Regions from separate parts of the Homo sapiens genome. Here region 2 is linked to region 1. The links come from fine-mapping of genetic effects on gene expression. A gene starts in region 1. The other region holds a variant in brackets. All regions are shown on one strand. Distances are from middle to middle.

Region 1 (5,372 bases):
TGAATTAAGGATGAATCCAGTTACCAGGTAAATTACGTGATTTTTTTTTTTGGAAGCTGCTTTGTCTAGTTTATAAGTTTGCTTATTGTCTTTTGCATCTGTCCCTGCTGTTACCTTACACCCAGGCTTCAGCAATAACCTTTAAAGCTCTGCAGCTGAAATCCATCCTGCACCCTGCCAGATTACTTCACTAAAATATTTTGAGATTGCCTCTTTGCTCAAAAACTTTCAATGCCTCCTCATCGTATTAATAGTTTCTAATGTGCAAACAGGTGGTGTTGCAAAAGTTCATCTGTAAGTTAGCTGTTCAGAGCAGTGGAACAAAGTTTCCCATTACTGGACACACTGATCCTTTAGGTCACACAAGTTTACATATGTATACAGTGAGAAGGAGAAAGAAAGCTTAACATAACTCATCACTGAACTGTAGTTTAAATAAATGTCTAACAATGTTTCCAGAAGAAAATGTGCTGATTCATTTTGAGATGCCAGGCACATACCCTGGCCTGCAGGGAATTCCCCTCCAAGCCAAATGATGATTCTCATAGACTGTGACAGGGACTGTCTAAATAGACACTCAAAGCTCTCCTATTCCAGTGCCATCATGACATCTTTATGATAAAATCTTCTCCCCATCATTCTAACTAAAAGCTATAGCTTTCCTCCTCTGAAGTCTAGACTGCATATCTGACAGCTTTTCTATCTACTGTATTGTCTTATACTTTCAATTTCCTCATGAGTATGTCTTAACTCTTGATGAGGCTGTGAACTGGTGAGAAAAGGCTCTGTTCCTTTTTTTTTTTTTTTTTTTTTAAGACGGAGTCTTGCTCTGTCGCCTAGGCTGGAGTGCAGTGGTGCAATCTCGGCAACCTCTGCCACCCGGGTTCAAGCGATTCTCCTGCCTTAGCCTCCCGAGTAGCTGGGATTACCGGCGCCTGCCATCGTGCCCGGCTAATTTTTTTTATTTTTAGTAGAGATGGGGTTTCACCATCTTGGCCAGGCTGGTCTTGAACTCCTGACCTCGTGATCCTCCCGCCTCAGCCTCCCAAAGTGCTGGGATTATGGGTGTGAGCCACAGCGCCCGGCCTAAGGCTCTCTTCTTATAACCTCTGCAATCCGTGGCACATAAACACTCATTAAATAGTTACCAAAGAAATGAAGGAATTTATGCCGATTGCTTTCCAGATGACACATGCAGGCAAAGTCAGGAATCTGGTTTTAATGGCCAATTTGGATTTATTTCCCAAAAATATCCTACAGCCTTATTATCAGGAAGCTGCCTTGAAAATGTGTGCTAGAGTCTACAGTAGGAAATGGCTCAAAGTATGAATCAGTGCAAAATGACCTTGAGTAACATTGGTTACAGTCTGTCACATGCCTACATGTGCCAGGTAATTTACAAACATAACTCTAAAACAACCATTCTGTGAGGAAACGGGGGCTTTGAGATAGTGTGATGTGACTTACCTAAGATCACAAAGCTTTTAAGGGATGGAGGCCAGGATTCCAAAGCTAGCATTGGAACGAAAGTCTTCCCGACACCAGCCCAGGTTGTGAAGATGAGCTAGGAGGACCTACTGCCTCGCTGGCTGGTTAGGGCTGGGCGTGCCTCCCTGGTGGAAGGAAGGTACATACCTTCCTTCTCCCCCTCTATTTCCTAAAACTGCTGAGTCAGAGGATGGCCCTAACCTTCCCGACCAAGGGGGACTTTCTATCGGGAGCACATGAGCAGCTCTTCTCCCTAGCCAGTACCTTCAGATTCCAAGCTCATGTTATTTCGATATCACCACACTGATTCTCAGCTCCCGGAAAAACAACTCAAGGCTTGAGTCAGACACTCCATGTGTTGTTCAATGATCCCGCCTGCAACAATGTTTATTATAACCAAAAAATATAAACAGCATGAATGTCTATTAATAGCGGAGTGGTTAAATAATAGTACATCCGATGGTTATCGGATGGAGTACCATACCACGCAGATGTTAAATGATAAAAGTGTACTGTTAAATAGAAAAAGCAAGGTATGTACATATATGTTTGTACAGGCAAAGGAAATTCACTGGGGGGCACTTATTCATTCAACAAATATGTGTTAAGCATTTTAAGGTTACCTGTGAAACTAACAGGGGTTACCTGTGAGGAGTGCTTCAGAAGGAAAAATAGTAACTTGTACTTTTCAGTAAACTTCTGCACATAATTTTAAGGACGAACATTGTTTTTTTTTTTTGAGACGGAGTTTCGCTCTTGTTGCCCAGAATGGAGTGCAATGGCGAGATCTCAGCTCACTGCAACCTCCGCCTCCCGGGTTCAAGCGATTCTCCCGCCTCAGCCTCCCGGCATTGCTTTTTATAAAGTCAAAAGAAAAGGAAGTTTGATAAAACAAGTAGAACTATCCGATAAATACTCGCCTGGAAAGGGACAGGATTATAAGAAACAGGTAATAAGGAGCTTAAAACCCTCTGCAGTTCTGCAGTGAGGATGGTCGTGGGGGCATACAACTTTCCGTTTCAGGTCAGTTTAGGTAGGGCAGGTGGGAACTCACTCTAAAACGAGAAACCGGGGCTGATGACAAAATGCACACGTTTAGCTTCTGGCGGCCCAGGTCTTCCTAGCCGCAGATTCTGAGACGTGTATCTGCAGGTGGTGTGAAATTGAAGCCGGGGGAGCGGTTGCTTTCGGTCTCCGAGGTGCGCCTTGCACACTGGGTCATTCAGCTCCCAGGCTCGGCTCGGAGCTGGACCACTCCCTCCCCTCCACCAAAGAGGCAATGTGGGCTCCAAGAGGTCACAGCGCTGGGATGGGATTTCGACCCCGCGCTGCCCTCAAAGGCCACCTCCTCGCAGCTCTGCTCCCGCCGGCAGCTCCCGTTCTGTCCAACTCGGAAGCCGCCCGCCGCCCTCGGCGTCCACTCCACAGGCCCGGGGCCGGGGCCAGCTCCGCGGGGGAGGGGTCGGTGCGGAAGGGGCGGGGTACCGGGCCTTCCCCGCGCGACTCTGCCTTCTACGGCCCCGGCCCCTGCCTCTGGAAACCCGGAGCTCGTGCGAGCCCCGCCCCACGGTCGCGGCGTGCCTGTCATTTCCTCTCCGCAGGGCGTGCGGGTCTCGAAGATGAGGGAGCAACAACGTCCACGACCGGGCTTCTCCGGCACCTTGGGCTTCTTTCCGCTGGGACTCGACAGCGGCTCGGCTCCGCAAGCTCTCAGCGCCCAGGGTGGCGGCGACGACGCTCCCCGAGGAGACGCGAGGAAGACGGGCCCGCGCTTGCTGGGACTCCGTCAGGGCGCGTGCGCGACCCGGGCGCGGCCGGCTCAGGCTGCGGCTGCGCAAGGCGGTGCCAGACGCTGCGCCTGCGCAGTGGTGGGGCGGGGCGGGAAGGAGGGAGGCGGTGGTAGCGGCGGCGGCTGCTGAGGAGGAGGAGGGGGAGCGGAGGGAGGTGTTTCTGTCAGTTCCGGCTGTTTGTTCGGGAAGTGGATCCGCCGCTGCCGGAGCAGCCCGAAGGGAGCTGCGGATCGCGAGGCCAGTACCGACCCCGCCCGCCCGCGCGCACCGCCCCCGCCCGCCATGGCCCGGGACTACGACCACCTCTTCAAGCTGCTCATCATCGGCGACAGCGGTGAGGGCCGCAGCGGCCGGAGGCGGCGCGGGCCCTGCCGGGCGCGGCCCGCGGGGGCCTCGGGGCGGCAGGCGGGCGGGGAGGTGCCGGCCCGTGCGGGGCGGGCGGGCGGGGCAGCCCGGCGGTCTGGGCCCCAGGGGTGCGCCGAGGGGCTCCGGACCGCGCCGAGGGGAGGTTGGGGCGCGGGGCGGAGGGGCCAAGCGCGCCGGGTCCAGTCATCGCGCCTGTTCCTGCCTCACGTGTGACCTTGGTCAAGTCGCGCGATCTCTGGAGTTGGAGAGACGTGGGTTCGAGTCTCAGGACTACCACCTGCCTCGCGCTGACCTTGGGCAAGTTGCTTCGCCGTCCTGAGCCTCAGTTCCCTCATCTGAGAAGTGGGGATGTGCCTTGCTGGGTGGTGTGAGGATTCGATGGGATAAAGTAGGAAAAGTGCGTAGCGCCCTACCCGGTAAAGTAAGCTCGAAGTAAATGTTCACTATTGTCATTATCATCAGTATCCTTTATAAGCGTCAGTTTCTTCCCATCTAAAATGAGGACGTTCTCAGAACCTGCCTCATGGGATTGCCGTGAGGTTTAAATGAGGTAAGTCGGATAAAGGGCTTTGCACAGGGTCTGGCATATTCCTGCTGAATTATTATATCCCTGCGTGGTTCAGTTTCCTCATCTGTAAGATGGAATGATAGTTGGATCTGCCTTATGGGGTTGATGTGAGTATTAAGTGAGATTCTGCAGTGTTGCTCACAGCTCCTGGCACATAGTGAGTTGTCACTGTTTGCTGTTACACTACTATATACAGAGGGGTCCTGGGGATGGGACAGCCAAAATTATAAAAGTGCTTTGGCCACACACACACACTGCTTGAGGGCTCCTAGCTCTGATCACTGCTCTAGCTCCAGTGCCTAGAACAGTGCCTGGCACCCAGTACATGCTTAAGACATATTTGCAGAAGGAATTAATGAATATTAAGTGTCCTTCGAAAAGGTAGACTGGTTTCTGGGAAAAGGTGGAGGGTTTTAGAGCTGTTTGGAGTGTGGCAGGTGAGCAGGTTTATGGAGTGACCAAGAGGTCAGGAAGGCAGGCCCCAGAAGGTTTATGGGAGCGAAACTGAGGTGCTGGGGTTATATGATGTTCATGAAAGAGTCTTGGGAGCATGCTCAGTTTGTAGACCAGACCTGAGCTGAGTGTGGGGAGGGATGTCTTATGATTGGAGGCAGAGGCCAGGCTGGTGGTAGAGCCCATGGACTGTTAAGGAAAGGGGATCAAATCAAGTGAGCGGTATGACTTGGGATGTAGGAGTGTTGGGTAGCGATGTCAGAGCTAGGTCAGGGAAGTGGGTGGTTTTGGCCTCCCTTTTAAAGCTGGATGGAGATGTGGTTGGTGGTTTGGATCAGGTGAAGGATGGCTGAGGTTTCCGTGGTTGCTGGAGGAGGGGAGAGGTAAGGGGGAAAGCTGGGGGCTAACCAGGGAGATGGAAGAGTAACTGAGGTTGGGGAAGGAGGTAGAAAGGTGGAGTACTGACTGGTTATGGTTTGAATGAAGGGAAACCAGGCAAGCTCTGGAGTGTTCTCTTGGAGATGGCCTTTGGTATTCTTCAGGGTCTTGAGGCTTCTTCCTTTACATGATTTCCTTGCAGCCCTGGCCTGGGTTCTGAGGGACTGGCACTGGGGCCATTTCTCTCTTTTTGGAGTGACAGCCCGCCGTGGTCAGGAGCCTTTATCCCTCTGCAAGACATCTGGACCTCTGCGTTGATATCCAACAGT
Region 2 (5,372 bases), 160 kb before region 1:
AGAGCAAGACTCCATCTTGGGGAAAACAAACAAACAAACAAAAAAACGGGCCGGGCATGGTGGCTCATGCCTGTAATCCCAGCACTTTGGGAGGCTGAGACGGGCAGATCACGAGGTCAGAAGATTGAGACCATCCTGGCTAACACGGTGAAACCCCGTCTCTACTAAAAATACAAAAAAAAAATTAGCCGGGAATGGTGGTGGGCGCCTGTAGTCCCAGCTACTCGGGAGGCTGAGACAGGAGAATGGTGTGAACTCGAGGGGTGGAGCTTGCAGTGAGCTGAGATCGCGCTACTGCACTCTAGCCTGGGCGACAGAGGAGAGTCCGTCTCAAAAAAAAAAAAAAAAAAAAAAAAAAAACCACTGCAGTTAAGACCCCTGTACTGTCTTGTGTGTCAGTCCTGGGAAGATCTGTGAATGGCCTGAGAAGGAGGAGAGAGGTTTGGGCTGGGGGCCAGGAGATTGGGGTTTTCATCCTGATGCTACAACTAATTATGCAGCCCAGCTCACTCATCTCCTGGCATCTCCATGTTGCCAGTCTTTCATTCGTTCAAAAATAGTTACTCAAACCTACCATTCCAGATGCTGGTGAACAAGCAGCAAACAAGACAGACATAGTCCCTGTTCTCATAGCCCTGACATTTTAATGGGGGAGGCAGAGACAAATAATAAACAAGTACACAAATAAACGCAGAATATAATGGCAGAAGGTGAACCTCAACAAATACCAGGGTAAGGAGTCTGATTTGGTGGGGTACGGGGAGACTTTAGATAAAATGTTCAGGACCCACAGAGGTGGCACGTGAACAGCTATGCCAAGATCTGAGATCAGCTATGTCAAGATCCCAAAGTGCTAGGATTACAGGCATGAGCCACTGCACTTAGCCCAATAAAGTTGATTTTTAAAAAAAAAACATAACAGCTCCCTCCCCCTCCCCCATCCCCCTCCCCCTCCCCCTCACCCGCTCCCTCTTTCTTTCTTCGGTCTCCTTCTGTTGCCAAGGCTGGACTGTACTGCCGTGGTCTCGGCTCGCTGCAGCCTCCCTGCCCCGGGCTCCCCTGGTTCTCCTGCCTTGGCCTGCCGAGTGCCTGGGATTGCGGGCACGCGCCGCCACGCCTGACTGGTTTTTGTATATTTGGAGGAGACACGGTTTCGCCCTGTTGACTGGGCTGGTCTCTGGCTCCTGACCTCGAGTGGTCTGCCCGCCTCGGCCTCCTGGGGTACTGGGATTGCAGACGGAGTCTCGGTCACTCAGTGCTCAGTGTTGCCCAGGCTGGAATGCAGTGGCGTGATCTCGGCTCGCTGCAACCTCCACCTTCCAGCCGCCTGCCTTGGCCTCCCAAAGTGCTAAGATTACAGCCTCTGCCCGGCCGCCCCGTCTGGGAAGCGAGGAGCACCTCTGCCTGGCCGCCCCGTCTGGGAAGCGAGGAGCCCCTCTGCCCGGCTGCCACCCTGTCTGGGAGGCGAGGAGCGCCTCTGCCCTGCCGCCACCCCGTCTGGGAGGTGAGGAGCGCTTCTGCCCGGCCACCACCCCGTCTGGGAGGTGAGGAGCGCCTCTGCCTGGCCGCCACCCTGTCTGGGATGTGAGGAGCACCTCTGCCCGGCCGCCACCCCATCTGGGAGGAGTGCCTCTACCCGGCCGCCCCGTCTGTGAAGTGGGCGCCTCTGCCCAGCCACCCCGTCTGGGAGGTGAGGGGCGTCTCTGCCCGGCTCCCCCGTCTGGGAGGTGGGGAGCACCTCTGCCTGGCCGCCCTTCATCTGGGAGGTGGGGGGCGCCTCTGCCCGGACACCCCGTCTGGGAGGTGGGGGGCGTTTCTGCCCGGCTGCCCCATCAGGGAGGTGGGGGGCGCCTCTGCCCGGCTGCCCATCGTCTGGGATGTGAGGGGCGCCTCTGCCCAGCCACCACCCCTTCTGGGAGGTGAGGAGCGCCTCTGCCAGGCCGCCCCGCCTGGGAAGTGTACCCAACAGCTCCGAAGAGACAGCGACCATCGAGAAAGGGCCATGATGACGATGGCGGTTTTGTCGAAAAGAAAAGGGGGAAATGTGGGGAAAAGAAAGAGAGATCAGATTGTTACTGTGTCTGTGTAGAAAGAAGCAGACATAGGAGACACCATTTTGTTCTGTACTAAGAAAAATTCTTCTGCCTTGGGATGCTGTTAATCTATAACCTTACCCCCAACCCCGTACTCTCTGAAACATGTGCTGTGTCAACTCAGGGTTAAATGCATTAAGGGCGGTGCAAGATGTGCTTTGTTAAACAGATGCTTGAAGGCAGCATGCTCCTTAAGAGTCATCACCACTCCCTAATCTCAAGTACCCAGGGACACAAACACTGCTGAAGGCCGAAGGCCGCAGGGACCTCTGCCTAGGAAAACCAGAGACCTTTGTTCACGTGTTTATCTGCTGACCTTCTCTCCACTATTATCCTATGACCCTGCCACTTCCCCCTCTCTGGGAAACACCCAAGAATGATCAATAAATACTAAAAAAAAAAAACAAAAAAACCATAACATTGCCGGGTACTCACGCCTGTAATCCCAGCACTTTGGGAGGCCGAGGGGGGCGGATCTCCAGAGGTCAGGAGTTCAAGACCAGACTGGCCAACATGGTGAGACACTGTCTCTACTAAAAATACAAAAAATTATCCAGGTGTTGTGTCGTGTGACTGTAATCACAGCTACCCAGTAGGCTGAGGCAGGAGAATCACTTGAACCTGGGAGGCGGAGGTTGCAGTGAGCCGAGATCATACCACTGCACTCCAGCCTGGACGACAGAGTGAGACTCCGTCTCGAAATAAATAAATAAATAAAATAAAATAAAATAACATTAGGCTGGTGCCGTGGCTCACGCCTGTAATCCCAGCACTTTGGGAGGCCGAGGGGGGTGGATCACCCAAGGTTAGGAGTTCAGAACCAGCCTGGGCAACATGGCAAAACCCTGTCTCTACTAAAAATAAGAAAAATTAGCCGGGCGTGATAGCGTGCCTGTAGTCCCAGCTACTTGGGAGGCTGAAGCAGGAGAATGGCTTGAACCTGGGAGG[T/C]GATGGTTGCAGTGAGTCAAGATTGCGCCATTGCATTCCAGCCTGGGTGATACAGCAAGACTCCATCTCAAAAAAATTTTTTTAAAAAGATAACATTGGCTTATTGGCTTCTGGGTAGAAAATTGACAATAGAGGTCCAGTTTGGAGGTTCATGCAGTAATCCCAGGCAAGAGAGGGTAGTGCGTGGCTGCACCTAGAGATATAATTGCAGAGGTGAAAATGAGGGGGTGGGGGTGGGAATTGGGCTACACTTTGCAGATGGACAGGCAGAACTGGGTGTGGAAAGCGAGGACGGGGAGGAACAGAGGATGACTTCCAGGTGGACACCCGGTCAACATATGGGGTCCTTAGGTGATAGAGAGGAGGATGAAGGTGGAAATCCAGCCCCCTTCACCTGAGAAAAGGTTGAAGAATCTCTTGAGATCCTTTTTGACCTTATAATTCTTTGTTTTCTTTAACTTTTTTTTTTTTTTTTTTTTTTTTGAGATGGGAGTCTCACTCTGTTGCCCAGGCTGGAGTGCAGTGGCCCAGTCTCAGCTTACTGCAACCTCTGTCTCCTGAGTTCAAGTGATTCTACCTGCCTCAGCCTCCCAAGTAGCTGGAATTACAGGTGCACGCCACCACACCCAGTTAATTTTTGTGTTTTTAGTAGGGACGGGGTTTCACCATGATGGCCAGGCTGGTCTCGAACTCCTGACCTCAAGTGATCTGCCCACCTCGGCTTCCCTAAGTATTGGGATTATAGGCATGAACCACCATGCCCAGACACAATTCTTTGTTTATAAGCCCTTCCAGGCAGGCATGCCATATGGAGAAGAATTCTCAATATCCCCATCTCACAGATGAGAAAACTGAGGCTGAGAGACTCTCCCAGGATCCCCAAATGGGAACTGAGGAAAACTGGAATTCTAGCTCAAATCTTCTTTTTTTTTTTTGAGATGAAGTCTTGCTGTGTCGCCCAGGCTGGAGTGCAGTGGCATAATCTCGGTTCACTGCAACATCCGCCTCCCAGGCTCAAGTGATCCTCCCACGTCAGCCTCCTAAGTAGCTGGGACTACGGGGCCTGCACCACCACACTGGCTAATTTTTGTATTTTTAATAGAGATGGCGTTTTGCCATGTTGGCTAGGCTGGTCTTGAACTCCTGACCGCAGGTGATCCACCCTCCTCAGCCCTCAGACTCTCACAATGCTGGGATTATGGGCGTGAGCCACTGTGCCCGTCCCTACATAGTTTTCTTTAAGTGGACCCACTTTAAAACAAACAAACAAACAAAAAAACCTTATCTTTATCCTAAACAATAATATTGGAGCTGGGCCAGGCGCGGTGGCTCATGCCTGTAATCCCAGCACATTGGGAAGCCGAGGGAGGTGGATTATGAAGTCAAGAGATCGAGACCATCCTGGCCAACATGGTGAAACCCCATCTCTACTAAAAATACAAAAGCTAGCCAGGCATGGTGGTGGGTGCCTGTAGTCGCAGCTACTCGGGAGGCTGAGGCAGGAGAATCACTTGAACCCGGGAGGCGGAGGTTGCAGTAAGCCAAGATTGTGCCACCGCACTCCAGCCTGGTGACAAAGCGAGATTCCGTCTCAAAAATTAAAATAAATAAAATAAATAAATAAATAATATTGGAGCCATCACAGGTTTTATGTGCTAATTAGATAATTTTCTAACACATAAATATGTAACTATTAAAATAAGGAATCTGGCCGGGCGCGGTGGCTCACGCCTGTAATCCTAGCACTTTGGGAGGCCGAGGCGGGCAGATCACGAGGTCAGGAGATCGAGACCATACTGGCTAACACGGTGAAACCCCGTCTCTACTGAAAATACAAAAAATTAGCCAGGCGTGGTGGCAGGCGCCTGTAGTCCCAGCTACTCGGGAGGCTGAGACAGGAGAATGGCGTGAACCCGGGGGGTGGAGCTTGCGGTGAGCCGAGATCGCGCCACTGCACTCTAGCCTGGGCGACAGAGCGAGACTCTGTCTTGAAAAGAAGAAAAAAAAAAAACTGAGCTGGGCATGGTGGCTCATGTGTGTAATCCCAGCACTTTGGGAGGTCGAGGTGGGAGGATTCCTTGAGCCCAGGAGTTTGAGACCAGTTGGGCAACAAAGTGAGACCTCTCTGTGTCTGCAAAAAATACAAATAAAATAATAAATCTTTGTACTAGCTACAACCTCTCATTCCACCAGTGGCAGTTAGTCACACTACATTTGGGAGAATTATGCCTGGGACCACCCTACAGTGTTGCATGTCAACTCAGTACTCATGAAATATACATGATATATTTATCTAGATACAGCAGTTATAGACCACACTTTGTCAACACA

Evidence for each region. PIP is the estimated chance that this variant, and not a neighbour inherited with it, causes the effect.
Region 2: its variant is fine-mapped to the expression of RAB35-AS1 in lung (TOPMed, PIP 0.97).

What each region holds. Positions count from the first base shown.
Region 1 is chr12:120,114,839-120,120,210 of GRCh38, reverse strand. RAB35-AS1 (RAB35 antisense RNA 1) reads right to left here and starts at 3,304. Exons shown (of 1, transcript NR_182302.1): 1 at 1,208-3,304. It overlaps RAB35 (RAB35, member RAS oncogene family), which reads left to right and starts at 3,458. Exons shown (of 6, transcript NM_006861.7): 1 at 3,458-3,612. The coding sequence starts at 3,561. RefSeq lists enhancers at 215-274, 1,390-1,439, 1,480-1,549, 1,580-1,679, 1,099-1,890 and 2 more and silencers at 2,392-2,570, 2,558-2,617, 2,708-3,057, 3,218-3,527, 3,628-3,757.
Region 2 is chr12:120,274,616-120,279,987 of GRCh38, reverse strand. No RefSeq gene overlaps it. Among named protein-coding and RNA genes, the nearest start is that of PXN, 12 kb to the right of the region's middle. The variant T/C (reference allele first, on the strand shown) is at 3,042.